3 linked regions of the Homo sapiens genome follow. The protein of the gene in region 1 interacts with the protein of each later gene in a biochemical or structural test. Each region holds a gene or a part of one and is shown on either strand. Other genes may lie near its edges. The genes, in order: CELSR3, REST and CTCF.

The links.
Region 2: the proteins of CELSR3 (region 1) and REST form a complex in vitro, tested with the Homo sapiens proteins (one study listed by BioGRID).
Region 3: the proteins of CELSR3 (region 1) and CTCF form a complex in vitro, tested with the Homo sapiens proteins (one study listed by BioGRID).

What each region holds. Positions count from the first base shown.
Region 1 is NC_000003.12:48,657,745-48,668,920, reverse strand, and holds the start of CELSR3 (cadherin EGF LAG seven-pass G-type receptor 3 precursor), read left to right. Parts: upstream 1-6,034; 5' UTR 6,035-6,286; coding exon 6,287-10,034; intron 10,035-11,176. UniProt on the Homo sapiens protein: Receptor that may have an important role in cell/cell signaling during nervous system formation.
Region 2 is NC_000004.12:56,902,101-56,912,950, forward strand, and holds the start of REST (RE1-silencing transcription factor), read left to right. Parts: upstream 1-5,799; 5' UTR 5,800-6,113; intron 6,114-6,809; exon of another isoform or gene 6,810-7,487; intron 7,488-8,529; 5' UTR 8,530-8,538; coding exon 8,539-9,436; intron 9,437-10,850. UniProt on the Homo sapiens protein: Transcriptional repressor which binds neuron-restrictive silencer element (NRSE) and represses neuronal gene transcription in non-neuronal cells.
Region 3 is NC_000016.10:67,605,491-67,615,942, reverse strand, and holds part of CTCF (transcriptional repressor CTCF), read right to left. Parts: intron 5,120-10,452; 5' UTR 5,111-5,119; coding exon 4,330-5,110; intron 3,993-4,329; coding exon 3,822-3,992; intron 1-3,821.

The sequences.
Region 1 (11,176 bases):
ATACAAAAATTAGCTGGGCGTGGTGGCATGTGCCTGTAATCGCAGCTACTCGGGAGGCTGAGGCAGGAGAATTGCTTGAACTAGGGAGTCAGAGGTTGCAGTGAGCCAAGGTTGCACCACTGTATTCCAGCCTGGCGACAGAGCGAGACTCTGTCTCAAAAAACAAAAAACAAAACAAAAAACAACAACAACAAAAAACAAAACAAGGTCTTAATACTGTTTTCTAGAAACTGTATATTTTCAGATGTCAAATTTATATGGAATTGATTATGCAAGCAGTGTGAAATAGAGATCTCATTTAATTTTTTCTATATGGATATCCAACTGACCCAGCATCATTTATTGAAAAGCCTATTCTTTCAGTTAATAGAGTTGCTCCTGGGGAAACAAAAAAAAGAAAACAACCCTTTCTTCATGTTAGCTCTGAAGAACCACCCTTGTCAAAATTCAAGTTTCCACACATCTTCAGGCCTGTCTCTGGATTTCGTTCCTTTAGTCTTCCTATCCTCGTACCAGTACCACACAATCTTGGTTTCTTTTTATTTTTTAATTTTCATTCTTTTTTTAGATACAGGGTCTCTTGCTCTGTTGCCCAGGCTAGAGTGCAGCATGTGATCATAGCTCACTACAGCCTCGACCTCCCCAGAGCTCACATGATCCTCCCACTTCAGCCTCCCAAGTAGCTGGGACTATACAGGCATGTGCAAAATTTTTGTATTTTTTGTAGAGATGGGGTTTTGCTGTGTTGCTCAGGCTGCTAAATCTAGTTTGTCAGTTTACACACACACAAAATCTAGTGGGATTTTTTTTTTTTTTTTTTTGAGACAGAGTCTTGCTCTGTCGCCCAGGCTGGAGTGCAGTGGCGTCAACTTGGCTCACTGCAAGCTCCGCCTCCCCAGGTTCACGCCATTCTGTCTCAGCCTCCCAAGTAGCTGGGACTACAGGTGCCCGCCACCACACCCGGCTAACTTTTGTATTTTTAGTAGAGACGGTTTCACCATGTTAGCCAAGATGGTCTCGATCTCCTGACCTTGTGATCCGCCCGCCTCAGCCTCCCAAAGTGCTGGGATTACAGGTGTGAGCCACCGCACCCAGCCAAAATTTAGTGGGATTTTTAACTGAAGTTGCATCGAATCCATATATCAATTTGGGAAAATTGGCACCTTTATAATATTGACTTTTCCAATATTGGAACAATTTTTCACTTTATTTATGTCTTTATTTCTCATTTTTTTTACTTTTTTTTTTTTTTTTTTTTTCAGATAGCGTCTGGCTGTGTTGTCCAGGCTGGAGTGCAATGGCATGATCTTGGCTCACTGCAACCTCTGTGTCCCAGGTTCAGGCACTTCTGCCTCATCCTCCAGAGTAGCTGGGATTGCAGGTGCACAACAGCATGCCCAGCTAATTTTTTTTTTTTTTTTTGAAACGGAGTCTCGCTCTGTTACCCAGGCTGGAGTGCAGTGGCGCAATTTAGGCTCACTGCAAGCTGCACCTCCCAGGTTCACGCCATTCTGCTACCTCAGCCTCCCGAGTAGCTGGGACTACGGGCGCCCGCCATCAGGCCCGGCTAATTTTTTTTTGTATTTTTAGTAGAGACAGGGTTTCACCGTGTTAGCCAGGATGGTCTCGATCTCCTGACCTCATGATCCGCCCGCCTCAGCCTCCCAAAGTGCTGGGATTACAGGTGTGAGCCACTGCACCTGGCCAAGCTAATTTTTTTGTATTTTTAGTAGAGATGAGGTTTCACCATGTTGGCCGGACTGATCTCTAACTCCTGACCTCAAATGATCCACCCACCTTGGCCCTCCAAAGTGCTGAGATTTCAGGCATGAGCCACCAATGCCAGGCCTATGTCTTTATTTCCCTCAATAATGTTTTATAGTTTTTTTGTATGTGTGTATGTAGTCTTTGCACATCTTTCATTAGGTTTATTCCTCAGCATTTGATATTACTTGATGCTATTGTAAACATCATTGTTTTTAAGAAAAAAAATTTTTTTTTCTCGTTCACTGCAACCTCTGCCTCCCAGGTTCAAGTGATTCTCCTGCCTCAGCCTCCTCAGTAGCTGGGACTACAGGTGCCCACCACCACGCCCGGCTAATTTCTGTATTTTTAGTAGAGACGGGATTTCACCATGTTGGCCAAACTGGTCTCAAACTCCTGACCTCAGGTGATCTGCCCGCCTTGGCCACCCAAAGTGCTGGGATTACAGGCTTGAGCCAACATGCCCAGGCAAGAAATTTATTTTCTAACTGTTGGTGACATATAGAAATTGCAACTGATTTTTATATATTGATCTTGTGTCCAACAACTTTGCTGAACTCATTCTAACAACTTACCTATAGGTTCCTTTGAAATTTTTACATATACAATCCTACTGCTTGTGAATTAGTTTTTTTTCCCTTCCAATCTTCATAACTTATTATTTTTCTTGCCCTACTGCACTGGATAGGCCCTCCGATATAATACTGAGGCTTGTGGTCATGAATATAAAATGAGACCAATTAGCACGGTTGTTTGTTTTTCTCCAGCAATGTTCTGCTGCGCTAGAGGCAAACAATACGTAAATAGTCTATTTTAACGGGGTTAGATTTTAGCCCAGCAAGTTTGTCTAAGAAGAACAGGGCAGGCCGGGCACAATGGCTCATGCCTGTAATCCCAGCACTTTGGGAGGCCGAGGCGGGAGCATCACAAGGTCAGGAGATCGAGACCAGCCTGGCTAACACGGTGAAACGCCGTCTCTACTAAAAATACAAAAAAAAAAATTAGCTGGGCATGGTGGTGGACGCCTGTAGTCCCAGCTACTCGGGAGGCTGAGTCAGGAGAATGGTGTGAACCTGGGAGGCAGAGCTTGCAGTGAGCCGAGATCGCGCCACTGCACTCCAGCCTGGGCGACAGAGCAAGGCTCTGTCTCAAAAAAAAAAAAAAAAAGAAAAAGAAAAAGAACAGGGCAGGGAGTTTCCGTGGCACTGAACTCTATAAGGCTAATGACACAGGTCAATAGCTGAGGTGATGAACAATGGACTCGAGATCTCAGTGAGGTCAAAGAACTGCTGGATAATTGAGCTGGACAGGTTGGCCAGGTCTTCCCCTGGAAAGGTACACCTGGCTGGGAGTAGACAAACACAGGGTGGGGTGGAAAAGGCAGGAGAAGGAAAGGCTGAGAAGTGTTAGTGGCAGTATCTGCCACACCCTTACCCTGGTCTTCTGATCGCTCCATCTGCCGCCCAGCAGCCTCAAATCCAGGTCTCTGGGTCCTGGGTGGACCTCTAGTTGGGAGCTGATAAGAGAAGGAGGATAGGCTGGGCACGGTGCCTCATGCCGGTAATCCCAGCACTTTGGGAGGCTGAGGCGGGCAGATCACTAGAGGTCAGGAGTTTGATACCAGCCTGGCCAACATGGTGAAGCCCCATCACATGGTGAAGCCCCATCACACCACTTCACTCCAGCCTGGGTGACAGAGTGAAACTCCATCTCAAAAAAAAAAAAAAAAAAAAAAAATGAGGTTAAACCACATAGGGGTCTTATTAGGAGGCAAGGGCAAGATTTGGAGGTGGAGAGAAGAACTACCACCACTATCACTAACATCTGGTTTTTGTTTTTTTTTTTTTACCGGGAGTGCATTAGGAGCTGCCAATGGGGCTGGGGCATAGAGGTGAGTGCAGATTGAGGGAGAGGGGCTCCACAGAACAGCCACAAAGGGAGGATGACAGTGGGATGACACACAGCAGGCAGCAACATGGAGAGTGATCCGCAATCAATCTCACTACTCAGAAGTGAGGAGCTTTGCTCTCCAAAAGGAGTGTTAGCTGGGACCAGCGCCAGCCCTATTGGTGAGAGGGCAGGGCTTGATTTCCCTCAGCCATAGTCCCTTTATGTCTCTGCACATTTGCCCACACAGTCTCCAAGACCTAGGATGCCCACCCCCAATCCCTATCCCTCCCTGCCCTTCCTTTGCAGATGCGGATCTCCCCTTGGTCATTCAAGGCACTGCTCAGGCATCTTATGCAAGAAGGCGTCCCAGGTTGCGAAGGTGACTCAGACGCCTCCTTTGGGACTCCAACACCCTTCCCCGGCAGAGCCCCTGCCTGTCTGCCTCCGTGGTGTCAGGTTTTGTGCCCTCTACTCACTAGATTGTGGACACAGAAAGCGCTGGTGCTGTCAAAACCACTTCTGGGTTGCCGGGCGCGGTGGCTCACACCTATAATCCCAGCACTTTGGGAGGCCAAGATGGGCGGATTGCTTGAGCCCAGGAGTTCAAGACTAATCTGGCCTACATGGTGAGACCCTGTCTCTATAAAAAATGCAAAAATTAGCCAAGTGTGATGACATGTACCCGTAGTCCCAGCTACTCGGGAGGCTGAGGTGAGAGAATCGCCTGGGGAGTTCGAGGCTACGGTGAGCTGTGATCACCACTGCACTCCGAAAGAGTGAGACCTTGTCTCTAAATAGATAAATAAAACTACTTTGGGGGACTCGCTCCTCCAGCCCCTGCACCGATTGGCTCCCATTCAAAGGAGTTCAGCCCTAAGTGCCTCTGCAGATCTTCCACCCCCACTCACAAACCCGTAGGAACCCCGGCCGTGTATCAGGCCCAGAGCTCTGATCCTGGGGAGGTCCTCAGATTCGTAGACAGGAGAGGGAACAACTGGACACCTGTTGCCTGACCTTGGTAGCCACAAGGGGCGCTCGGGAGGTGGAACCCGCAGAAGCCCCGCCTCCCGGAAGCGGAGCAGTCAAGGGGCGAAAGGATGCGCCGACTGATTGGTTGATGGTGATGTCATAGGGACCGTTCGGGGCGGGCCAGAGGCCTTGGCCAGGAGTTCCTCGCCTGTTAGAACCAGGATCCACCCCATCGCGGGAGCCGCACCCTGTGGAGCGTTCTGGGGTCCCGGCCCTGACCTCTTCCTGGGCTTCGGGATGCCCGCGTCCTCTGCACCCGGCGCTGCAGCTCGTTATCGATTCCGCCTTTGGAGGCCGGTCCGTATAGTGTACCTCCCGGACTCTCTCACGGTTAGCCGGCAACCCGCGGAGCCCCCTCCCCCATGCGATGAGTCCGCCGTGAGGGGCGGGGCCTCCCATTGTGCCAATAGAAACAATGACTGACCGATTGGAGTGCTCCGCGTTCACCCCTCGCCTCCGCTCCTCTCGTGACGTCTGTTGCGCCAGGTCCACCCATTGGCCTGGCGAGACCGGCGCGTGCCAGGAGTTACGCAGGGAGAGCTGGAATGCACCGAGGGTGGGGGGAGGACTGAGTTTCTGTGTCAGTCCCTTCAAGGGGTTAAGGCATGCGGTCGTGACGGACGAGGGGCGGGGACCCGAAGAAGCGGGGCCCGCAGCCATGGGGCAACGCCGGGCTCCACGTGGCATCCCAGAGCACTCGGGACTCGCAGCCTGGGAGGGGGTGCAGCCTCCAGTGAAGGGGCCCCGAGCCCGGGAGACTGCTGGGGACCAGCAAGGCAGGGAAGAATTTGGCCTCTGCTCCCGCCTCGGGAGGGTCATCTCTGGTCCCTGCTCCGCAGGGGCGATCCAAACAAGCAGGTGGTCGCGACATGTTTCATAAAACTAGCTGATGGGATAGTTAAAGCTATTGTTCGGGGTGCTGGCACCCCAGACCCCTCTCCAGCCATCGTCCCCTCTACCCCAGGATTTCACACAGTACCCCCTCCCAGAGCTATGAGAACGCTCATGGGCACCAAAATTTCAGACCAAAATCCGGGACACGGTTCAGAACTAGTGGTCAGGAAGGGGGAACAAGAGATCTGGAAGGACAGAAAAAGGCTGGGAGACGGAGCTGGGACAGCGCCCTAGAAGGAGGGAGGTGGGTGAAGGCGGCGACCGAAAGTGGGGAGGGCGGACCCAACGACGGCGAACCTTCGCGCTCTGTTCAGCACCAGGAGCAACGCTCACGTCCTCAATAAAGATGGCGGCAACATCTTCGGTCCTCAGAGCTGCCATGCGCGATGGGTTGTACCACCGTGTTTCGGGCGCCGGGGCAGAGGTGGAGCGAACCATCGGGGCGGCCGGGAGCCATGTTGGAGCGGCGGGAGGCGGCAGCAGCGTCGGGGATGCTGTGGTGGGGGCGGAAAAAGCCAGGGCCGCACGCCGGAGGGGCTCCGGCCGCGGAGTAGATGGTGCCCAGAGGGCGGCGGGGGTGCGGAGAGACAGGCGGAGGGGCGGGGGCCCGGGGCGGCGGCAGGGGCCCGGGAGGGGGCCCGAGCGGCGGGGCCAGCCCAAGGCCCGGACCGGGGCGGGGGGCGGTGGAGGCCGTGCAGGGAGGCGGGGGATGATGGCGAGGCGGCCGCCGTGGCGGGGCCTCGGGGGACGGTCGACCCCCATACTCCTGCTCCTTCTCCTCTCTTTGTTCCCCCTCAGCCAGGAGGAGCTGGGGGGCGGTGGGCACCAGGGCTGGGACCCAGGCTTAGCTGCCACTACGGGGCCAAGGGCGCATATCGGTGGCGGAGCCTTAGCTCTTTGTCCGGAGTCTTCCGGGGTCCGGGAGGATGGGGGGCCTGGCCTGGGGGTCAGGGAGCCTATCTTCGTGGGGCTCCGAGGGAGAAGGCAAAGCGCCCGGAATAGTCGAGGGCCCCCTGAGCAGCCGAATGAGGAGCTGGGGATTGAACACGGCGTCCAGCCATTGGGCAGCCGCGAACGAGAGACAGGACAGGGACCAGGGTCTGTGTTATACTGGCGCCCAGAGGTCTCCTCTTGCGGGCGGACAGGACCTTTGCAAAGAGGTAGTCTGTCACCAGGGGCTCTGTCCTCAGGGGTCCCGGGCTCGGGGAACAGCTCGCCCCTCCCTTCAGACTTTTTGATTCGGCACCACGGTCCCAAGCCGGTGTCCTCCCAGCGGAACGCTGGGACAGGCTCCCGCAAAAGAGTGGGCACCGCGCGCTGCTGTGGGGAATTATGGGCAACAGGGAGCAAGGGTCAGGGCGAGAGAGCCACGACATCCGGAGCAGAAAGGACAGCCCCCCGGCGGAACTGTCTTCCAGGGGCCTCGGGATCTGGCCCCGAGCTGGATTCAGCACCACGCACGGCGAGGACAGCTCCTGCATCAGGTTCAGCACCCCGCGAGTCTCGGACAGCTCCCGAGCCGGCGCCCAAGCGCATGCGCTCCCGGGGTCTCTTCCGCTGCCGCTTCCTCCCGCAGCGCCCCGGGCCGCGTCCCCCGGGACTCCCGGCCCGTCCTGAAGCCAGGAAAGTAACCTCGGCGAACCGGGCACGCTTTCGTCGCGCCGCAAACCGCCACCCGCAGTTTCCGCAGTACAACTACCAGACGCTGGTGCCGGAGAATGAGGCAGCAGGCACCGCGGTGCTACGCGTGGTTGCTCAGGACCCGGACGCCGGCGAGGCCGGGCGCCTAGTCTACTCGCTGGCGGCACTCATGAACAGCCGCTCGCTGGAGCTGTTCAGCATCGACCCGCAGAGCGGCCTTATCCGTACGGCGGCAGCTCTGGACCGCGAGAGCATGGAGCGTCACTACCTGCGTGTGACCGCGCAGGACCACGGGTCGCCGCGCCTCTCGGCCACCACGATGGTGGCCGTGACAGTAGCCGACCGCAACGACCACTCGCCGGTTTTTGAGCAAGCGCAGTACCGGGAGACCCTTCGCGAGAATGTGGAGGAGGGCTACCCTATCCTGCAGCTGCGTGCCACTGACGGCGACGCGCCCCCCAACGCCAACCTGCGCTACCGCTTCGTGGGGCCGCCAGCTGCGCGCGCTGCAGCTGCCGCCGCCTTCGAGATTGATCCACGCTCCGGCCTCATCAGCACCAGCGGCCGAGTGGACCGCGAGCACATGGAAAGCTATGAGCTGGTGGTGGAAGCCAGCGACCAGGGCCAGGAACCCGGGCCGCGCTCGGCCACTGTGCGCGTACACATAACTGTGCTAGACGAGAACGACAATGCTCCTCAGTTCAGCGAGAAGCGCTACGTGGCGCAGGTGCGCGAGGATGTGCGCCCCCACACAGTCGTGCTGCGCGTCACGGCCACTGACCGGGACAAGGACGCCAACGGATTGGTGCACTACAACATCATCAGTGGCAATAGCCGTGGACACTTTGCCATCGACAGCCTCACTGGCGAGATCCAGGTGGTGGCACCTCTGGACTTCGAGGCAGAGAGAGAGTATGCCTTGCGCATCAGGGCGCAGGATGCTGGCCGGCCACCGCTGTCCAACAACACGGGCCTGGCCAGCATCCAGGTGGTGGACATCAATGACCACATTCCTATTTTTGTCAGCACGCCCTTCCAAGTTTCTGTCTTGGAAAATGCTCCCTTGGGTCACTCAGTCATCCACATTCAGGCAGTCGATGCAGACCATGGGGAGAATGCCAGATTGGAGTACTCCCTAACTGGTGTGGCACCTGATACTCCTTTTGTGATAAACAGCGCCACTGGCTGGGTCTCTGTGAGTGGTCCCCTGGACCGTGAGTCTGTGGAGCATTACTTCTTTGGTGTGGAGGCTCGAGACCATGGCTCACCCCCACTCTCTGCCTCAGCCAGTGTCACCGTGACTGTGCTGGACGTTAATGACAATCGGCCTGAGTTCACAATGAAGGAGTACCACCTACGACTGAATGAGGATGCAGCTGTGGGCACCAGTGTGGTCAGCGTGACCGCAGTAGACCGTGATGCCAACAGTGCCATCAGCTACCAGATCACAGGCGGCAACACCCGGAATCGCTTTGCCATCAGCACCCAGGGGGGTGTGGGTCTGGTGACTCTGGCTCTGCCACTGGACTACAAGCAGGAACGCTACTTCAAGCTGGTACTAACTGCATCTGACCGTGCCCTTCATGATCACTGCTATGTGCACATCAACATCACAGATGCCAACACTCATCGGCCGGTCTTTCAAAGTGCCCACTACTCAGTGAGTGTGAATGAAGATCGGCCAATGGGTAGCACCATAGTGGTCATCAGTGCCTCTGATGATGACGTGGGTGAGAATGCTCGTATCACCTATCTCCTGGAGGACAACCTGCCCCAGTTCCGCATTGATGCAGACTCAGGAGCCATTACATTACAGGCCCCATTAGACTATGAGGACCAGGTGACCTACACCCTGGCTATCACAGCTCGGGACAATGGCATCCCACAGAAGGCAGACACTACTTATGTGGAGGTGATGGTCAATGACGTGAATGACAATGCTCCACAATTTGTGGCCTCCCACTATACAGGGCTGGTCTCTGAGGATGCCCCACCTTTCACCAGTGTCCTGCAGATCTCAGCCACTGACCGGGATGCTCATGCCAATGGCCGGGTCCAGTACACTTTCCAGAATGGTGAAGATGGGGATGGAGATTTTACCATTGAGCCCACCTCTGGAATTGTCCGTACAGTAAGGCGGCTAGACCGGGAGGCAGTATCAGTGTATGAGTTGACTGCCTACGCAGTGGACAGAGGTGTGCCCCCACTCCGGACTCCAGTCAGTATCCAGGTGATGGTGCAGGATGTGAACGACAATGCACCTGTCTTCCCAGCTGAGGAGTTTGAGGTGCGGGTGAAAGAGAATAGCATTGTGGGCTCAGTGGTGGCCCAGATCACTGCAGTGGACCCTGACGAAGGCCCCAATGCCCATATAATGTACCAGATCGTGGAGGGGAACATCCCTGAGCTGTTCCAAATGGACATCTTCTCTGGAGAACTGACGGCACTCATTGACCTAGACTATGAGGCTCGCCAAGAATATGTGATTGTGGTGCAGGCCACATCTGCTCCTTTGGTCAGCCGGGCCACTGTGCACGTCCGCCTGGTTGACCAGAATGACAACAGCCCTGTGCTCAACAACTTCCAGATCCTCTTCAACAACTATGTATCCAACCGTTCAGACACCTTCCCGTCGGGCATTATTGGGCGCATCCCAGCTTATGACCCCGATGTCTCCGACCACCTCTTCTACTCCTTTGAGCGTGGCAATGAGCTGCAGCTGCTGGTAGTCAACCAGACCAGTGGGGAGCTGCGACTCAGCCGAAAGCTAGACAATAACCGCCCACTGGTGGCCTCCATGTTGGTGACTGTCACAGGTGAGGGGCAGGGGGCAGGCAAGTGACCCAGTGACACCAACCTGTTGGGCCTCAGGGACTCCACAGGGCACCTCAAACCAAAGAGGGATTTCTAAGCCTTCCAAGAACCCCTTAAGGGTAGGGTTCCTGCACCCTACAAGATCTGCCACAGACCTCACAAGGACTCTGCTTAGGTTCCTGGATAATCTCCACAGAATCCCAGTGATTCCAAGGCATCTAGCAGACCCCATAAAGCCTGTAAAGAACTGTCTGCTACCTAGGGATATCTCCCCTCCTGATAAAAGGTCAGAGGTCCTGGGGTAATCCTCTGGAGGTCCTAGGCAAAGCCAGTATGGGCCAGTCAGTCCACACTATGCCCATGTTCAGACGAAGGGTTACTTTGGGTCCAGTCTGACGCTTACCCTATCTGTGCAGGAAATGACCAATACTTGAGTGGTCAGGAACAGCAGCTTACTATGGAAGCTTCAGGTGGACAGTGGCTTCGTAGGGCCTGAGACCCTGACCTTTGGGAAAATGTCCAGAGGTCCACTTGCCTCTTTCCTGCCCCATCTGCTCCAGTCTTTCAGAAACCCCTCCATAATAGGAGAGTGCAGGTGGGAGAGGCTCTTGAAGTTCTGCCTACTGGAGGCTGCAGAGGTTGGGAAATAGGCTTCACTGGTGCTCATTCCTCAGTTCTGGAGCAGGGACTCCTGGCACTGCCTGAGAAGGCACAACCTTCATTTATCCCTCAACTCACTCAACAGTCTATCCTTATTGACCACCCAGTATGTGCTAGGGTGTGGGGACAAGACGAACAAGGCAGCTAAGCACCTCACCTTCATCTCTGGGGTGGTCACTGTGAAACCACAGGACCCAGGTCTGGAGTGGCGAGCAGGCTGCTAACTCAAGAATGCTGGTGTGTGTGTGTGTGTGTGTATGTCAGGGTTCAAGACCCCCCTGGAGCTTGATAACCCAGGATTCTGGAGGATGGCATTGAGTCTTCACTGGGCCAGGGCCCCTTCTAGTGTCATGGAAGAGCAATTTGCTGACCAAAAATAGGAGATAGGTGATCCCTGATCTGGAACCCTTCTTTTCTGGAGGGGGATGTTTTGCTGGTTCTGCTATGCTGGAGGAGGGGAGAAGGGAAAGGTGGCTGGGAATGA
Region 2 (10,850 bases), on another chromosome or scaffold:
GCCCTCCCAAACTACTGGGATTACAGGTGGGAGCCACTGTGCCCGGCTGTAAAGTGCTGTGTTTCGATCTCAGCTTGCTACAACCTCCACCCCCTGGGCTCAAGTGATCTTCCCACCTCAGCCTCCCGAGTAGCTGAGATCACAGGTGCACACCACCACACCTAACTTTTTGTATTTTTGGTAGAGACAGGGTTTTGCCATGATGCCCAGGCTGGTTTTGAACTTCTGACCTCAAGTGATCTGCGCCCCTTGGCCTCCCAAAGTGCTGGAATTATAGGCATGAGAACCGCACCCAGCCCTTGTTGCATTTTATACTTAGCTTTTTAAACTTTTAGCCATTCTAGTAGGTTTAGTGATAATTTTTAGACAAACAAGGAAAATGTACAGGTTCATTAATCTAGGAAACATTTATGCATAAAGCCAGTGCCTGGCTTTAGCTTTGGGTTGATACACTTTGCCAGAAGTTTGATTTTATTTACTGTGTCAGGAATATCAGCATGTTGAGAACACACAACACAGTTTCTTGTCTCTAGACCCTCTCAGACAGATGAGAAAGACATGGGAAAGAAAACAGGCGCAAGAGTATACTTATGGCACTTTAGGAGTTCATGTGGGAAGGTTTTAACCTCTCCTTGGGAAGAAGGGAAAGGTTGCCAGAAGTTGTCTTCTGAGTCAAGTCCATATTCCTCTAAATTGATGATTAGCTTTGTAAATTAACATGTCAATGTTGGCTCTTGAGTGTTTTAAATGCCATGGAAGACAATAAGGGCTTCTGCTTCCCAAGCCAGAAGGTAATAAATCTTTTTTTTTTTTTTTCGAGACGTGGTCTTGCTGTGTCACCCAGCTGGAGTGCAGTGGTGTGATCCTGGCTCACTGCAGCCCCAATCTCCTGCACTCAAGCAATCCTCCTACCTCAGCCTCCCAAGTAGCTGGGACTACAGGCACACCTCACCACACCAGCTATTTTTAAAAAATTATTTTTACTAGAGATGAGGTCGCACTGTGTTGCCCAGGCTGGTCTCGAACTCTTGGGCTCAAGTGATCTTTCCACTTCGGGCTCCCTAAGTGCTGGGATTACAGGCGTGAACCACTGGGCCTGGCCCAGAAGGTAATTAATCTTAATATAAAAAGTAGGCTTCAGAGTTATGGAATTGCGGATCTGAAAAGTCCCCCTATCTCAAATATATACATCTCTAAAGCCATTGTACATAGTGGCCCATCAGGCCCCAAAGATTAAAAGATGTTTTCGGGAATAGGGCCAGGGTAGAGCAGAAAGAAGACTGGACAAAGTGTCTGAGAGACATGGAAAGAGCACCGGACTGGCTGGAAATTGAGTCATGGGTCCTACCTCCATCTGTGCCCTAACTACTTGTGCAAACCTGGACAAGCCAAAAGCTTGTAGGCCTGTCTCCTTTTACATATAAAACAAGAGCCTGCACCTCTAAGATCTCTTGCATTTGTGACATTTTGTGGCCTACATAACATTTGGAGGGAGAATTCTGGAAGGAAGGACAATGGTAAAGGCCAGAGAAGAGAGAGGCAGAGCAATGCAGTTGATAGGCTATGTAACTTGTATTTAAACCCATCAAATGGAACGATACCTAAGGTTGAAACATTTTTTTTTTTTTTTGAGATGGAGTTCTGTTCTTGTTGCCCAGGCTGGAGTGCACTGGCACGATCTCTGCTCACGCAACCTCCGCCTCCCAGGTTCAAGCCATTCTCCCGCCTCAGCCTCTTAAGTAGCTGGGATTACAGGCGTGTGCCACCATGCCCAGCTCATTTTGTATTTTTAGTAGAGACAGGGTTTCTCTATGTTGGTCAGGCTGGTCTAGAACTCTCGACTTCAGGTGATCTGCCTGCCTCAGCCTCCCAAAGTGCTGGGATTACAGGCGTGAGCCACCGCACCTGGCCAAAACAGATTGTTAATGATCACCAAGGAATATCCAACCAGAGGCTGATGCGTGAAATCAGGAATGTGCTAGGAATACAATATGCAGAAGAGCAGGCAGGGAGATTTTCACCAGGAGGGTAGAACCCCAAGACCAGGGATCCAGGAGCATTAATTTATTTAACAGTAGTTATTAGGGAGATTCAAGGAGGCAGGCTCATGCTTAACATGAGGGAAGACTGTGATGGGTACTGAACGTTGGGTACCGACATGGGTAAGGATGGTCCCCACTTTGAGAGATTGTGATACCAAGCTAGGATTTTGTAACCATTCATCTAACTAATATTTGTTGAGCAACTAACGAGTTATAGGTGCTGGGGATAAAAAAATGTCTCTGCCTTTCTGGAGCTTAAGTTCCTAAGTAGGGTAAATAAATAAAAATACCTAGCATGTTAGTAATAAATGTTAGAGACAGAAACAGCAGGGAAGGGCATTAGGATTGGACGAAAATGGGAGCAGAAACAGCAGGGAAGGGCATTAGGATTGGACGAAAATGGGAGCGGGTTCCAAATGTGATCTAGGCTCCAAAAGAAGGCAGGAAGGAGCCCAGCTCAAGTCTCAAGTTCTCTTGTTCACCTCCTTCCCTTCTCAGCATGAAGGGAAAACCTCCCTGGCTCAAGCTGTTGATGCCTATAATGAGTAAGACACTATTCCAGTTATCAGAACCAGAACAAGAGGTCAGAGTCCAACCGGCAGCAAGAGTAGATGATGCTGGCTGGACTCGGTGGCTTACACAGGTAATCCCAGCACTTTGGGAGGCCGAGGCGGGTGGATCACCTCAGGTCAGGAGTTCGAGACTAGCCTGACCAACATAGTGAAACCCCATCTCTACTAAAATACAAAAATTAGCTGGGCGTCCTAGCGGGTGCCTGTAATCTCAGCTACTCGGGAGGCTGAGGCAGGAGAATTGCTTGAACCCAGGAGGCAGAGGTTCCAGTGAGCCAAGATCTTGCCACTGCATTCTAGCCTGGGCGACAGAGCAAGACTCCCAGGCGGGGTGGCTCACACCTGTAATCCTAGCACTTTGGGAGGCCCAGGCAGGTGGATCATCTGAGGTCAAGAGTTCAAGACCAGCCTGGCCAACATGGTGAAACACCATCTCTACTAAAAATACAAAAATTAGCCAGACAAGGTGGCACGTGCCTGTAATCCTAGCTACTCGGGAGGCTGAGGCAGGAGAATCACTTGAACCCGGGAGGTGGAGGTTGCAGTGAGCCGAGATCGCACCTTTGCATTCCAGCCTGGGTGACAGAGCAAGACTCCATGTCAAAAAAAAAAATAATATATATATATATATATAATTGGCCAGGTGTGGTGGCTCACGCCTGTAATCCCAGAACTTTGGGAAGCCGAGGCAGGCGGATCACCTGAGGTTGGGAGTTCGAGACCAGCCTGACCAACATGGAGAAACCCCCGTCTCTAACTAAAAATACAAAATTAGCTTGGCGTGGTGGCACATGCCTGTAATCCCAGCTACTCGGGAGGCTGAGGCAGGAGAATTGCTTGAACCCGGGAGGCGGAGGTTGCGGTGAGCCGAGATCGTGCTATTGCACTCCAGCCTGGGCAAAAAGAGCCAAATTCTGTCTCAAAAAAAAAAAAAAAAAAAAAAAGAAAGAAATCTCTCTAGAGAAAATACTATTAAGAACATATGATAATTAAAATAAAAAAATTGATGAGTTAAATATGCAGGAAAAAAACCATATAAGAAAAGCAGAACTCATTCTCATTTCAGAGTTTTTATCTTGCAGAAGATCCTAAAGTTTGGATACAGCAAAGTAAAATACAGACTTTTGAAAAACAGTTAGGAATTCAAGTTCATAGCAACAGCTTCCCTCAAGAAAATTTTCAATTGATTTGTAATTTGGCCTATGAATTTGACCTGTGGCCTTCATGTCATGATAATTTGGGTCACTCTGAATATGCCATCCCTTGAACAAGGGCCTCTGCTAATTTTAAATGAATGCAGCTGCCCATTCGCCATTCTTCTATTTGCATCACAATATGTGGGAATAAATTTGCAATTAATAAGACATTTCCAGTAAGCAGTCAGATTGAGGAAATGAAGGACATTTAGTAAGTTTAACAAGAGACATTTCATTTTTGCCTTTTTGGACCTAAAAAAGGGAAAGAAAACAAGTTTATGTCTTTGACAACCTTGGTAGAGGCCTGAATTGTACCCTGGGCTACAGCATCTAAAAAAGCCATGTGACCTCAAACTTGATTTTAGTTAAACAAATAAAATATATATAGAAAAGTTTGTACCAGTCCTAAAAATGTCGATCTTCCTTTCCTCCCTCCCTCCCTCCCTTCCTTCCTGTCTCTTTGGTTCAATGAAAATGAATACTTTTCAGGTTTGATTCATGGAGAGGTGTTACATTTGAAATTGCCTCATTGAAACTTTTGGTGGTCGAGCACCTTAGGGTCTTCATTTCATCTTGCATCGGAGACTGCATTAATTAGTAATATATTGTCCAGATAGAGGGAAACAGAGGTCCTACGTGGGTATACCAGGAAATGAAGAGTCTGGAAGCCCTGCCCTAAGAGAAACAAATAAAGGAACTTCAAAGAGAAGGAAGTGAGGTACCCTGAGGAGAAGCTGGGATGTCTTAACAACTGCTTTGGGATTTTGAGCTTGCCCTTTTCACTGTGTAGAGTGTTCCTTGCCCTACTTTCCACCTGTTGAAGTTTTCCTCATTCTCCAAGGTCAGACTGAATACATCTACTGTGAAAAGTTTCTAGAACCTCTTGGGATCCATCTTCCTACTGGCAAACCCCCATAGCACTTGCTACTTATGTTGTAATACCAAGCAATAGTCAGACTTATCTAGGTCAAGTTAAGTAGGGGCTTGAACGCCACACTAAGGGGTTTAAGCTTTAAGCTTGTAGTCATGGGGAGCCACTATGCTTCTGAGGACAGGTGTGACTTACGACTGACGTTTAGGAAGGTATCAAAGGCAGACTGAGAAGCTCTTTCAGGTGTGAAAGGGGGTGGAATTACTCTCTCTCTGTTCTTTTTTGTTGTTTTTGTTTTTGTTAGCACATGACTATGGGCTAGGCATTCCGCTTGGTTATCCCGCTTCATAGACGTGAGCCCGGTTACTCCGACACACCGTGGCCCCAGGCAGCCTCCCCGTCCTCACCACCTTTTCTTCTGTCATCTGAGGGTAATTCCTCCCCTGCAGTCGTGCTTTCCGGGCTCAGCAATGACCTGCTACCTGCCACGTCTAGGGATCTGTCCCCTCAGTCCTCACGCTCACGCTTTCTGAGTCCATAACCTCCTTCCTGAAACGTTTTCTTCTCACTTCTCCCAAACTGACTGCATTCCCCCTCCGGTAGTTTGAAATTTGGAAGACTTTTTTTTTTTTTTTTTTTTTTTACCGCAGACGCTTAAAACGAAGCTTAATTAGTCAAGGACAGCTATGGGTGGAGACTTGAAGAGATCTGAAGGGTATCTTGGAGCGCTTTAGACTTGAGAGGCCGGTGACAATAGCTCTAAAGAGACCCGTCAAAGCCTGCGGATTCTTCTTTTAACAGCTCTATTCTCATGCATGCACGCCAGGGCTGGGGGGAACTTTTGTTGTTTGTTTGTAATAGAAATCGAGAAAGGGAGTGGGGCCCGCCTCTTTTCTGACCTAAGGGCAGGAGTGAGGGGCCGGGAGGATTACGGGCGGCTCCCCCTAGACGCGCCCCCAGGCGAGCTGGAGACTGGGGCACTCCTTGCTTGGTAGAGGGGCGGGGCGCGCCTAGCGGCCACGCGCGCGGGCGTCGGAGGGGGCGTGTCTCGCGGGCGCGCGCGGGCGTCGGAGGGGGCGTGTCCCGCGGGCGGTGGCGGCGGCGGCGGCGCGGACTGGGTGCGCGGCGCAGCGTCCTGTGTTGGAATGTGCGGCTGCCGCGAGCTCGCGGCGCAGCAGCGGAGCGAGCGCCGCCGAGGCCCGGGGCCCCAGACCCTGGCGGCGGCTGCCGCAGCCGAGACGGCAGGGCGAGGCCCGGAGGCCTGAGCACCCTCTGCAGCCCCACTCCTGGGCCTTCTTGGTCCACGACGGCCCCAGCACCCAACTTTACCACCCTCCCCCACCTCTCCCCCGAAACTCCAGCAACAAAGAAAAGTAGTCGGAGAAGGAGCGGCGACTCAGGGTCGCCCGCCCCTCCTCACCGAGGAAGGCCGGTAAGTGGGGCGCTGGGCTGGGGGCTCGGTCAGGGTGGGGGAGGGCCGCCCGGGCGGCGGCAGTGGCGGGACGGGGAGGGCGCGGAAGGACGCGGAGTCAGGCGCTGTCCAGGGCTGATTTGCAGATACTGTGGCTCCGGCGGCGGCGGCCCCGCCGGGCGGGGGCTGGCGGCCGAGCAGGATCGGGTTACACAGCAGCCGCCCGGGGGCTGGGGGCGTTTGTTGGGAGCAGCGCGTCGCCTGGACCCCCTCCCCACTGGAGGCTGGGACGCCGCCTCCGCGCTGGCCCGGACGCTCCACCGAGTCAGGTCCTTTGAGGCCAAGGAGCGGAGCTGCTCGGGCCCGTAGTCCTGAAACTTCCTCTGCTTCCTCCTCCTGCCCCCGGGTCCCACCGCAGCCCCGCGCCGGCCCGCGGCCCTCCTGGCCCCCTCCCCCAGGGCCTCTCCCTGTCGCCGGAAGGCGCCGTTGAGTGCGGCCGGGCGGGTTGAGTCAGCCCCGGGGCCCGGGCGGTTCCGCCTGCGGGGCTGGACAGCGATTTCTGCGCTTCAGCCGTCCGGCGCCGCTGGCCCCCGCGTCCGGCCACCCGACCGCTGGAGCTGGCGGGGCTGGGGCGCGCGTCCTGCCGGGCGCCGTGGGGGAGTGAAGTTCGCAAACTTCCGGGGCGCGGGGGTGGCGGCTGGCCCGTGTGGGGGCCCCCTCCGGCGCTCGGAGCCCGACGCCTCGCGAGGGCGCCCGCGGAGCCTCCCCGGCCCTGGGCGTTGGGCGAGCCCCGGGGCGGTCGGAGGGGCCCGGGGGCGGTCGGAGAAGCCCGGACGCCGGCTGCGCGGTAACTTTCCGTCCTCTCCCGGGACGGGGGCCCTAGGGCTGGGGAGGGGGCTGCCTGGACTCGGGGAGGACTGGTTCCGGCCAAACAGCGCCTCGAGCTTGATCCCCTCCCCCGTTTTAGTGTTGGAGAGCGCAGGAAAAGGCTCAGGACGAGTGTCGGGGCGACTCCCGCGAGTTGGTGTGTAAATGTGTGCAGTGAGCGGGCCGAGGCGAGAGGAAGCGAGAGCGCCCGAGTTTGCAAAGAGCTGCTTTGTGTTTGGTATTTTGAGAAAATGGCCGAATGCCTATTTCAGTTAGGAATGCCGCCGCCGAGGCAGGCGCTGGTGGCAGCAGCACGGAGGAATTCGTGCAGCACGTTGGGCTTTCGGGCTGTGCCTGGACGGTCTTCCTAACAATCGTTAAAATTCCATTTGGGGTGGCAGTTAGGGGTTAGGGAGCAATTAGAAAAGTCGATGTTGGGCCAAATTACCCAATAGCTTGGGCTGTTCAGCCCCGGGACAGCCTTCGCCCTCTGTTTTCTGTGATGGCATTTGCTTCCAACTTTTGTTGGTACGTAGAACTAAACCGGTTTGTGTTTATACACTTGGGTGAAGCGGGTTACTTTTTGTATTTTCGGTTTAACTTTATTTTCTTAGAACTTCTTACTTTTTTTAATTTGCGAGTGAACACTTCGTTTGAGAATGGCACCTTTTAGATTGAGAAGTAACGTAGCATCTAGAAAGCCCAACTTGTTTTGAAGAAGGTGATCTTGTAATGGCTTCCACTAGGCAAGTAGGCCAAGTCAAGCACAATGCAAGAAAGTTGCTGATTGTCGAGTTGAGTTGCACGATGATTTTATTCGTATTGAAAAGCTTGGAATTCAGTGTTGTGGAACTTCAGCCTGCAGAAAAATAAGCTTATTAATTTTTATTTGTGAAGTTTTGAATAAATCAAACTTCCTTTTTCACAAGAAAAGGGGTCCATAAATGTTTTTTCTTTTAAGCCTGTGGAGTTGTCGAAAAATTAAGGGGCTGACTGCTACTTTTTCACAGTAGTTTATTCTTTTGGAGTTAGTTGAGTTCATGCGAAATCCAATTAAGTTGAACAATTATTACAGGCTTGTACTTTCCAGATGTGTTTGTGTACTTAATAAATGCACTGAATGGCTTGTGGATTTCTGGGCTTTCTGATTCAGACCATTGAACTGTTGAAGGGGGGAAAAGTTGGGAGGACAATAATTTACTACTCATGTTTTGAATTTTTAAAATAATTTTAACAGTAAAAATGAAGGTTACTTTTTATCCCCACCAGAACAATTAAAAGTGCTTGAGGAGGCACCACATGCCAGTGGCTGAATGATGAATGAGTTGTGCAAACAATTGGTAGAATTGTTTTATAGGGATAGTAGAAATTTTTTTTTGGTGATTGCAGTAGACTATTGGGAATTAACAACTATTTTAAAGATTTGTTTTTAATAGGCGATGAAGTTTACTGAGTTATAAAGATCATACTGGAAAATTTTTAAGTTATGAAGAATTACAGCGATGTGGTTTTAAGCCAGTAACAGTAGTGTTTAAACTGGTGCTCTTGTTTTGTTTTGTTTTTAATTCAGAATACAGTTATGGCCACCCAGGTAATGGGGCAGTCTTCTGGAGGAGGAGGGCTGTTTACCAGCAGTGGCAACATTGGAATGGCCCTGCCTAACGACATGTATGACTTGCATGACCTTTCCAAAGCTGAACTGGCCGCACCTCAGCTTATTATGCTGGCAAATGTGGCCTTAACTGGGGAAGTAAATGGCAGCTGCTGTGATTACCTGGTCGGTGAAGAAAGACAGATGGCAGAACTGATGCCGGTTGGGGATAACAACTTTTCAGATAGTGAAGAAGGAGAAGGACTTGAAGAGTCTGCTGATATAAAAGGTGAACCTCATGGACTGGAAAACATGGAACTGAGAAGTTTGGAACTCAGCGTCGTAGAACCTCAGCCTGTATTTGAGGCATCAGGTGCTCCAGATATTTACAGTTCAAATAAAGATCTTCCCCCTGAAACACCTGGAGCGGAGGACAAAGGCAAGAGCTCGAAGACCAAACCCTTTCGCTGTAAGCCATGCCAATATGAAGCAGAATCTGAAGAACAGTTTGTGCATCACATCAGAGTTCACAGTGCTAAGAAATTTTTTGTGGAAGAGAGTGCAGAGAAGCAGGCAAAAGCCAGGGAATCTGGCTCTTCCACTGCAGAAGAGGGAGATTTCTCCAAGGGCCCCATTCGCTGTGACCGCTGCGGCTACAATACTAATCGATATGATCACTATACAGCACACCTGAAACACCACACCAGAGCTGGGGATAATGAGCGAGTCTACAAGTGTATCATTTGCACATACACAACAGTGAGCGAGTATCACTGGAGGAAACATTTAAGAAACCATTTTCCAAGGAAAGTATACACATGTGGAAAATGCAACTATTTTTCAGACAGAAAAAACAATTATGTTCAGCATGTTAGAACTCATACAGGTAAGAGAAGCTTTCTAGTCCATAAGTTCAGTTCTCTTTTCTGATTGTTACTTGAGTGGTTAGTTAAGTAGTGCTTGAGAAAAAGGACTCTGGTTCAAATCCAGGTTCCATTTTGCTATCTTTGTGACCTTGCACAAGTTGTTTAACCTCTTTGTTCAGAAATTTCTCCATGGAGTAACAATATCTAGGTTGGGAGGATTATGTGAAGTTACATGTAAAGCACAGAGGAACAGCCAAGAGATCTTACCGTGGTCTTACTAAAGTACATATCCTAACTTGGGGTTTACCTTCAGCAAGTTAGACTGGCCGTGCATGGTGGCTCACGCCTGTAATCCCAGCACCTCGGGAGGCCGAGGCGTAAGGACTGCCTGAGCCCAGAAGTTCTAGACCAGTCTGGGAAACGTGGAAAGACCCCCGTCTCAAAAAGAAAACAGAAAAAAAAAAGTTTGTGTATTTATTTCTGTGACAGTGAACACATTTAAGATGCAGTGTAGTTTCTGAAAGAAATTGAGGGCTTATATAAAAAGGAAAACTCAGTGATTAACCTTGCACATGCCCACTTAACAAAAGCCTCAAACTTTAAAACATTTGACTTATAGCATTGAGTTCCTAAATGGAACAACTTGTCTTTGTCCACAAAAAAGAAATGTGAGAAGGTAGTTTTTAAAAGGTGGGTGGGATTATCACCAATTGAAACTATTTTCCTATGAAAGCAAACACTTGTAGAAAATGTATTTTTCAGACAATTATGTTTAGGGTGTTTGAACTGATACTAAGCGCAACTGTATAAAAAAAGTTGAAACTTTTTTTTTTTTTTTTTTTTTGAGACAGTCTGGCTTTGTCGCCCAGGCTGGAGTGCAGTGGCAAGATCTCAGCTCAGTGTAACCTCTGCCTCAGGGTTCAAGTGATTATCTTGCTTCAGCCTCCCTGGCTCAGCCTCCCGAGTAGCTGGGATTACAGGCACCCACCACCGTGCCTGGCTAATTTTTTTTTTTTGAGACGGAGTCTGGCTCTGTTGTCGAGGCTGGAGTGCAGTGGCATGGTCTTGGCTCACTGCAACCTCTGTCTCCCAGGTTCAAGCAGTTCTCCTGCCTCAGCCTCCTGAGTGGCTGGGACTATAGGTGCCCACCACCACACCCAGCTGATTTTGTATTTTTAGTAGAGATGGGGTTTCACCATGTTGCCCAGGCTGGTCTTGAACTCCTGACCTCGTGATCCGCCCACCTCAGCCTCCCAGAATGCTGGGATTACAGGCGTGAGTGCCACCCCTGGCTAATTTTTGTATTTTTAGTAGAGATGGGGTTTTGCCATATTGGCCAGGCTGGTCTCAAACTCCTGACCTCAGGTGATCTACCCACTTTGGCCTCCTAAATTGCTGGGATTATAGGGGTGGGCTACCGCACCCAGCCGAAAC
Region 3 (10,452 bases), on another chromosome or scaffold:
TCAAACACTAAAACCAAAGGAAGGCTGCCTTTGAGGATACAATTAGGAAGAGCCACAATGTAATGAATAGAACCAGCCATCTGCAGAAATGATTCTCTTTGAGAATGAAGAGAATGCTGGAGAGGAAGAGTGACTGGAGTATAATAAAAACTAAGCAATTCCAAGGAATGTTCATTTGTTCATTCGATTCTTTAGAACCACTATGGATCTAACGGTAAAGCACAGAGTTCTTCCTGTGAAAGTGTATAGTCTGGTGGTATGGATAAGAAGTAAAACAATTAACAAGAGAAGAAAAGTGGCATCCAATTTTCTTTTCGTTTTTTGTTTTTGAGCCAGGGTCTTCCTCTGTTACCCAGTGGGAGTGCAGTGATAGGATCAAGGCTCACTGCAGCCTTGACTTCCCAGGCTCAAGTGATCCTCCTACTTCAGCCTCTCCAGTAGCTGAGACTACAGGCTTGCACCACCATGCCTGGCTAATTTTTTCTATTTTGTAGAGATGGAGTCTTGCCACGTTGCCCAGGCTTGTCTCAAACTCCTGGGCTCAAGCAATCCTCCGGCCTCGGCCTCACAAAGTCCTGAGATTACAGGTTGTGAGCCACCATGCTTGGTCTTCTTTTAGAACAAAGTAAGCTAAAAAATAAATGCTCGTGTTTACCTAGTACTATCCAGGGCAGAGAAAGGCCTGCATAAGCGTGGCAATTAGCAAAGAAGTGGACACTGCTGTGGGGCAGGGAGTTCCATTAGGCTGTGCCACATGACCACCTACATCCCTTCACTCAAGGCCCATCCTCTTTTTTTTGAGACGGAGTCTCTTGCTCTGTCGCCCAGGTTGTAGTGCAGTAGCATGATTTTGGCTCACTGCAACCTCTACCTTCCAGGTTGAAGTAATTCTCTTGCCTCAGCCTCCTGAGTAGCTGGGACTACAGGTACATGCCACCACACCTGGCTAACATTTTTTTTTTCTATTTTCAGTAGAGACGGGGTTTCACCATGTTGGCCAGGATGGTCTCGATCTCCTGCCCTTGTGATCCGCCTGCTTCAGCCTCCCGAAGTGCTGGGATTACAGGCATGGGCCACCATGCCTGGCTTTTTCTTGAGACCGAGTTTTGCTCTTGTTGCCCAGGCTGGAGTGCAATGGCACGATCTCAGCTCACCGCAACCTCCGCCTCCTGGGTTTAAGTGATTCTCCTGCCTCAGCCTCCCGAGTAGTTGGGATTACAGGCATGTGCCACCACACCCGGCTAATTTTGTATTTTTAATAGAGACAGGATTTCCCCATGTTGGTCAGGCTAGTCTTGAACTCCTGACCTCAGGTGATCTGCCCGCGTCAGCCTCCCAAAGTGCCAAAGTGCTGGGATTACAGGCGTAAGCCACCACACCCGGCCACCTGGCTAATTTTTGTATTTTTAGTGGAGATGAGGTTTCATCATGTTGGCCAGACTGGTCTCAAACCCCTGACCTCAAGTGATCCACCCGCCTCAGCCTCCCTAGGTGCAGGGATTACAGGTGTGAGCCACCATGCCCAGCCATCAAGGCTCATCCTCACCAAGTTAGCTTTCAATTGCTACAACATCTTTTTTTTTTTTTTTTTTTTTTGAGATGGAGTCTCACTCTGTCGCCCAGGCTGGAGTGCAATGGTGCGATCTCCACTCACTGCAATTTCTGCTTCCTGGATTTAAGCAATTCTCCTGCCTCAGCCTTCCGAGTAGCTGGGACTACAGGCATGCGTCACCACGCCCGGCTAATTTTTATATTTTTAGTAGAGACGAGGTTTCGTCATGTTAGCCAGGCTGGTCTTGAACTCCTGACCTCAGGTGATCCACCCACCTCGGCCTCCCAAAGTGATGGGATTACAGGCGAGAGCTACGGCGCCCGGCTGCTACAGCATCGTAACAGAGGCAAAGGCGCCCCCTAGAATGCAATGCAACTGCATCTGGAACATGAAAAGGTATACTCCTCACCATAAACTGATACTCTTGGTGTATGCATCTGCTCTTATGGGTTTTGTTGGTATGAATCAGTCTTGCCAAATCTGCTGAGTAACCAGATAGACTGTACCTCTTACTTTCAAAGCTGAAGACCAGATAGAGAATGCCCACACCAAGGCACACCCATCTTGGGAAGTCCTGTTATGGGGCCATTTATTTATTTATTTATTTATTTTGGTGAGGCAGAGTCTTGCTCTGTCACTTAGGTTGGAGTACGGTGGCACAATCTTGGCTTACTGCAACCTCTGTCTCCCGCATTCAAGTGATTCTCCTGCCTCAGCCACCCAAGTAGCTGGGTTTACAGGCGTGTGCCACTACACCCAGCTGATTTTTTGTATTTTCAGTACAGAGGCGGTTTTGCCATGTTGGCCGGGCTGGTCTAGAACTCCTGGCCTCAGGTCATCTACCCCCCATTGGATTTCCAAAGTGCTGGGATTACCCAGTTACTTTTATTTAGTCATATGCCCCATCCTAGTGTCTTCAAAGTATCAAATAAAACATATTATCAAGTGTCTGAGTAGAAATTAGGGAGATGTTTAAAAGTAAGTCACATTAGTGAAGAATGTGCCCATGTGCAGCATACTGTTTATGATTAACACCCACTTGATCATGGTCATCTGACAACCAGCACAACAAATCTAAAACAAGGGTTGTCATTAGAAATTTTTAAAAACCTAAAAATCAAAAACAAGAGTTGTCATATGAAATGAAGTTATTCTGCATGAAAAACCATGTGAGAAGACTTGCAACCAACTTCCTACACTGGGATAACAAATAGCTCAGGAAAGCTTAAAGAGAGGTTTAGTGCACAGAGTCCCTCTACTTTAGAGACCTCAGGGAACCTGGCCACAGCCAACATGAAGCTAATATCAGAATATCTGAACACTAAAGTAAGTAGGATGCTCAAATAAATGTTTGAATTATCAGAATGGTGCCTTAGCTTTTCCATTCTGAAATTATGAATTATCTTCCTTGACGTGAAACAACCAGAAACAAAAAATGTTAAGGTTTGTTTTTGAGATGGAGTCTCACTCTGTCGCCCAGGCTGGAGTGCAGTAGCACTATCTCAGCTCATTGCAGTGTCTGCCTCCCAGGTTTCAAGCGATTCTCCTGCCTGAGCCTCCTGAGTAGCTGGGATTACAGGCACCCGCCACCACACCTGGCTAATTTATGTATTTCTAGTACAGATGGATGTGATTTTGTCACGTTGGCCAGGCTGGTCTCCAACTTCTAATCTCAAGTGATCTGCCCACCTCAGCCTCCCAGAGTGTTAGGATTACAGGCGTGAGCCACTGTACCCGGCCACTTTTTTTTTTTTAAATAAAGGTAGGATTTCACTTCTATTTCTTTTCTTTTCTTTTTTTTTAGACGGAGACTCGCACTGTCGCCCAGGCTGGAGTGCAGTGGTGGGATCTCGGCTAACTGCAAGCTCCACCTCCCGGGTTCACGCCATTCTCCTGCCTCAGCCTCCCGAGTAGCTGGGACTACAGGCGCCCACCACCACACCCAGCTAATTTTTTGTATTTTTAGTAGAGACAGGGTTTCACTGGGATTTCACTTCTATTTCTAACATTCTTCCTCATAGTACCAGGCATCTATTGCCTGAGACTTCTTTTTTTTAAGAGAGAGGGTGTTATTTTTCATTAAATTTTCTTTACATTTGTCTATAATAACTAAGTCCAAGTGCTTACAATAAAATCATGATTACAAAAAGGGCATCATAAGAAATAATAAAAACTTCCTTTAAATTCCCGCTGGAGTCAGCTTGAATGAATACTAAAAAGCGAAGTCTGAGCATTTGCTGTTGTAGCCCCCAACATTCTTATCCAGCACCTGTGTGTGTGTTAAGGTGATTCCTCAGGAGGGTGACTGTTCTGAATGCCCTGCCACAGAGATGGCACTTGTGTGGTCTCTCATCAGTGTGGCTTTTCATGTGACGATCCAAATTTGAACGCCGTGGACACGTGTAACTGCAAAGCTCACACTGGAATGTCTTCTTTACACCTATGTGCAAAATAAAACACTTACTTGCTGCAGAGTTTCAAAGTGTTAAGATTAATCCTAATCTTAAATTTCTACAAATATATTTGATTAGCTTTTAATAACAAAACCCAATATAAGTCATAATTATCTCATGTCACTAATACATTTCCTTCTTCTTTGGGATTAAAAAAAGAGCATTCAATCTGGAAAAAACTTATTTTAGACTGGTTTTAAAGAACGGTACCCACATAACGACCTTTTACAAATACGGTTAATATAAAACAACTTGCATATGCACTGTGTTGTATGCTTATCCCAAAATGGTTTTATGAAACCACTATGGATAAACTCGTTTTACCTTTCTTTTTAATTTTTGTTGGCTTTGGAGGCTTCATATTACCAACCACTTTCTCTGCATTAACCTCTGATAGCAGACCCTCCTGCTGTTCTTCCTCAAAATCGTAGACAGACACATCTACATCTTTGCCCTCCTCTGTATAACGCAGTTTGCTCTTTTTGGTTTTCTTTGTTTTTTTGGCTGGTGGCTGATAGTCTGGGTCTTTTTGCCAACTAGGATCTTCCTGGGGTGGAAGTTCCCCTTGTTCTAGTGTCTCCACCTCTCCATTGGCCCCCACTTTAACCACCTGAAACCCTTCAGGCAAAGGTAGGGTGTGGCATATCATGGGTTCACTTTCCGCAAGGCCCTCTTTAGACACTTCATTTTCATAAGCCCCCTGAAGTTCTTCTACTGAAGTGGTAGCAACAGGTACAGTCACAGGAACAGGTACTTGAACAAGCTGAAGTTCTCCTATGTTTATGGGCTGTTCCTCCATATTTACAACCTGTAAAGTTATAATCTGGGTATCGTCCACAGCAGCCTCTGCTTCTGGAGCCACTGTGCCCTCCATTACTTCAGTCTTCATCTGAAGAAGGGTGGGGTCCAGCTGTTCCATCATCACCATCTGTACACTGCTGTTGACATCCTGGACCACCTCACCCCCATCCGTCTGGTTCTGGGGTAAGTGGCAGGCATCTTCTTCCTGGCCCCCTTCCCGGCGTCTCTGGTAAGTCTTTCTCTCCTTTCCTTTAATAAAAGTTTCGGACTCCTCCACAATGGCTTCGACTGCATCACCTTCCATTTCCCCTGCCTTTATTAAGGGAGAACACAGATTGTTATTTAAAGCAAAGCATGTCTAAATAAAAATATACATTTTAAAACAAAAAGACCCTTTGGTGAATGAATTAGGCATCAATGGTTGTTAATATTAAAAAAGACACAACAGACATGTGCCTCTTGATGAAAGAAACAACCACTACTGGCCAGGTGCAGTGGCTCACGCCTGTAATCCCAGCACTTTGGGAGGCTGAGGCGGGCGGATCACGAGGTCAGGAGATCGAGAACATCCTGGCTAACACGGTGAAACCCCGTCTCTACTAAAAATACAAAAAAAATTAGCCAGGCATGGTGGCGGGCGCCTGTAGTCCCAGCTACTCGGGAGGCTGAGGCAGAAGAATAGCTTGAATCCAGGAGGCGGAGCTTGCAGTGAGCCGAGATTGCACCACTGCGCTCCAGCGTGGGGGACAGAGCAAGACTCCATCTCAAAAAAAAAAAAAAAAAAAAGAAAAAGAAAAAACCACTACCTATAATGCAATTTTGTCAAACAAACTCCAAAACTCTGAAACCAATCAAGTCTCTAGATCCAACCCAATTAACAGGAAATTGGTGACTCAGGATGTTAAATTATACTACAGGGATTAAATCAGTGAAATCCATACCGAGGGAAACACTGCAAGATTATACTCAGGTTCTTCTGCAAATAGATAACAAGAAGAATACAAGGGAAGACTGATTGGAGGGAGAACCAGTAGATCAGTAGTTCTCAGCCTGGGGTGACTTTGCCTCTAGGAACATTTGGCTAACACATTTTTGGTTGTCACTACTGGGCTGGGATGTGCTACTGTTATCTCGTGGGTGAAAGCTAGAGATGCTATTAAACATCCTCCAAGACACAGGTCAGTCCTCCACCACAAAGAATTATCAGGCCAGGCCGGGCACGGTGGCTCACGCCTGTAATCCCAGCACTTTGGGAGGCTGAGGCGGGCAGATTACCGGAGGTCAGGAGATCGAGACCATCCTGGCTAACACGGTGAAACCCCGTCTCTACTAAAAAATACAAAAAAATTAGCCGGGCGTGGTGGTGGGCGCCTGTAGTCCCAGCTCTTGGGAGGCTGAGGCAGGAGAATGGCGTGAACCTGGGAGGCGGAGCTTGCAGTGAGCCAAGATCGCGCCACTGCACTCCAGCCTGGGCGACAGAGCGAGATTCCATCTCAAAAAAAAAAAAAAAAAGAATTATCAGGCCCAAGATGTCAAGAGCACTGAGGCTGAGAAACTCTGATACAGATAAAAGAGTCTTAAAGAGACAGTAATCAATCACAATGCATGAATCTTCTTTGGATCCTGATTCAAACCAATAAATGGTGAAAAAGATGTGACACAAGACAATTAGAAATTTCAACTCTGGATATCTGATGATATTAAAGAATTACTAACAAAACTAATTTAAATCTTACACATGTAGTGGGGAAGACACTGGTAAAGGACATATAATTTCAGTGGGAATAAGTTCAAGAGATCTATTATACAACATGAATATTACAGTTAATAATAACGTATACCTGAAAATAACTGAGAGCAGATTTTTAAGTGTTCTCATCACAAAAAATGACAAGGATGTGAGATGATGCATATATGAATTAGCTTAATTTTCTGCAATTATGGGGTCTTGCCACATTTCCAGACTGGCCTTGAACTCCTGGGCTGAAGCAATCCTCCCACCTAAGCCTCCCAAAGTGCTGGGATTATACATGTGACTGAGCCACTGTGCCCGGGTCTGCCAATGTTTTGTAAAAAGCTTTATTAAGGTAGCTTTATTAAGCACGTGGTGGCTCACGCCTATAATCCCAGCACTTTGGGAGGCTGAGGTGTGTGGATCACCTGAGGTCGGGAGTACGAGACCACCCTGAACAACATGGAGAAACCCCGTCCTAAGTAAAAATACAAAATTAGCCAGGTGTGATGGTGCATGCCTGTATGTAATCCTGGCTACTTGGGAGGCTGAGGCAGGAGAATCGTTTGACCCGGGAGGTGGAGGTTGCGGTGAGCCAAGATTGCGCCATTGTACTGTGCAGCCTGGGCAACAAGAACGAAACTCCGTCTCAAAAAAGAAAAAAAAAAACACTAAATACACCTCCAAAATTTCCTTGTATTTTGTTTTTGGTGATAATATTTATCATGAGATCCATCCTCAACATAATTCAAAGTGCATAATGCTATACGATTAATACAGGAACTATGTTGTGTAGCAGATCTCTAGAACTTACTCATCTTGCATAACTGAAACTTTATACCCACTCAACAGCAATTCCCCATTTTCCCCACCCTGTCAAGGGTTTTTGACCTTGTTTTTTGAAGCCAAACTCAGAACTTAGATCCAGACTGCAATGGCCGTGTTTGTAGACACTGCACAAAACTGCCCATGTCATACCATCAACTTGACATTCACCTCTCTCCTGACAATGAGATCAGGAATTCCCTGAGAATAAGAACCACATCTAACAAGTCGTTTTTTTTTTTTTAATTTTTTTTTTGAGACGGAGTCTCGCTCTGTTGCCCAGGCTAGGGTGCAGTGGCACGATCTCCGCTCACTGCAAGCTCCGCCTCCCAGGTTCACGCCATTCTCCTGCCTCAGCCTCCCGAGTAGCTGGGACTACAGGCGCCCACCACCATGCCCGGCTAATTTTTTGTATTTTTAGTAGAGACGGGGTTTCACCATGTTAGCCAGGATGGTCTCGATTTCCTGACCTCGTGATCCGCCTGCCTCGGCCTCCCAAAGTGCTGGGATTACAGGTGTGAGCCACTGCGCCCAACCGGTTTTTACTTTTTTTTTTTTTTTGAGTCGGAGTCTCGCACTGTCGCCCAGGCTGGAGTGCAATGGCGTGATCTTGGCTCACTGCAACCTCTGCCTCCCAGGTTTAAGTGATTCTCCTGCTTCAGCCTCCGGAGTAGTTGGGATTACAGGTGCCCACCACCACACCTGGCTAATTTTCTGTATTTTTAGCAGATACGGGGTTTCACTATGTTGGCCAGGCTGGTCTTGAACTTCTGACCTCGTGATCTGTCCGCCTCGGCCTCCCAAAGTGCTGGGACTACAGGCGTGAGCCACCACGCCCAGCCACGGTTTTTACTCTTTAGCACTGTGCCCAGGATGGTAAGTACTCAATAAATGCCAACCAAATTGAATATATAATAGAAAGCAGAAAACAAATCAGCCAATTCATAGTTTTTGGCTCTTATATCTTGTGAATGGGCCGGGCACGGTAGCTCACGCCTGTAATCCCAGCACTTTGGGAGGCCAAGGCTGGTGGATCAGTTGAGGCCAGGAGTTCAAGACCAGCCTGGCTAACATGGCAAAACCCCATCTCTACTAAAAATACAAAAATTAGCCAGGCGTAGTGGTGTGCACCTGTAATCCCAGCTACTTGGGAGGCTGAGGCACGAAAAGAACTTGAACCCTGGAGGTGGAGGTTGCAGCGAGCTGAGAAAGTGCCCCTGCATTCCAGCCTGGGCGACAGAGTGAGACTCGGTCTCAAAAACAAAAAATAAAAAACAAACAAAAATCTTGTGAATGACATTACCTAAACAAGAGTAAAATAGGGGCCAGGCGTGGTGGCTCAGGCCTGTAATCCCAGCATTTTGGGAGGCCGAGGCGGGCAGATCACTTGAAGTCAGGAGATGGAGACAAGCCTGGCCAACACGGCAAAACCCCGTTTCTATTAAAAATACAAAAATTAGCCAGGTGTGGTGGCACATGCCTGTAATCCCAGCTACTCAGGAGGCCGAGGCAGAAGAATTGCTTGAACCTGGGAGGTGGAGGTTGCAGTGAGCTGAGATTGGGCCACTGTACTCCCTCCAGCCAGGGCAACAGAGCGAGCCTCTGTCTCAAAAAAATAATAATAATTAAAATAAAATAAAACATATATAGCTGAGTGTGGTGGGGTGTGCCTCTAATCCCAGCTACTTGGAAGGCTGAGTGAGGCTCGAGAATTGCTTGAAGCCTGGAGGCGGAGATTGCAGTGAGCCGAGTGCCACTGCACTCCAGCCTGGAGCCTGGGCGATAAGAGTGAAACTATGTCTCAAAAAAAAAAAAAAAAAAAACCCAAAACAAAACATTGAAGTGTTTTGTATTTTTGGCCAAGAATACAGCTCAAACGAAGCTTTTGTTAGTTCTATTAGACACACTTTTCTCCAATTCTCTGTCTAGGCACCTTAACATTGTATTATATCCATGATAGCAGTCAGAGAAGACTCCTTAAGCCAGGACCACCTGAGAGGCAGCACAAGAACTACTACAGAGAGAATGACATTACCTAAACAAGAGCAAAATAGGGGCCGGGCGTGGTGGCTCACGCCTGTAATCCCAGCATTTTGGGAGGCCTGGTCCTACATTCTAGGAGTTACTGTCTAACATAAAGGACAAAATAGGTAGCACAATGGTTCAAGGTGAAATTACATAGGTTTGGAGAAAGATAACATAACCAGGTGTGATAGAAAAATGCTTCATAAATGTGGAATTTGAACGGAACCCTGAAACGTGAGCAGGACATTTAAAGGCAGAGTTTGACAGTGGAGGGCAGAGGATGTATTCTGTAGGGGAAAGGTTTGGATTTCTGGGTACAATAAATACATGTGGGAATTAGTTATGAGTAAGAAAAAGAACTGGCTTAAAGCACAGGACAGAGGAGAGGGTAGTAAGACAGGTGAAAGATGTGCTGGTTGCCCCCCATAGTTTGGATGGTCTTGAATAACAAAATACCTCAGATGACTGGCAATGGAAAACCACTTATGCTTTCTGGGCAGAGAAGTAAAGATTCACTCATTTCACAAAGAAGAAGACTTAATTTCCTCAAAAAGTGTGTCTCTACTTTTGCAAAAACTACATGATGCACTTACCACCCTTCTGGCTCACAAAGCCCCTTCGTACCTGACCCCATGATAACCTATTCAGATTTATGTCTTGCCCTCTAGCACTCTCCCCTTCAGTCAAGCTGTCTTTTCATCCAGACACAGTTCCTACTGTCATCTCCCTGTCTTCACTCTGTACTTTACGTCTGATCCACTCCTCTCAACACCAGCTCATCCCTGGCACAACAAAGCTTTCTGAGGTTCTTGTGGCCACTACTTTGCTCCAAATGTGTTTCTGATAAAATAAGGACACAGTTTAGCACTTAAAATTTTCTCAAAACGATCTATTTTCCCAGTTGGGTGTGAAAGCTCTTTAAGGGCAAAAGCCGGGCTTGAAGCAACATATACTTTTGGACAGATTCAGCAAACCCCACCATCTGCCTGGAAAAAAACAAGGCTCAAGGTAAACTCCCGAGGTTGTTGGATTGCCAGTTTGGTTTATTCTTCCATTACCTTCTT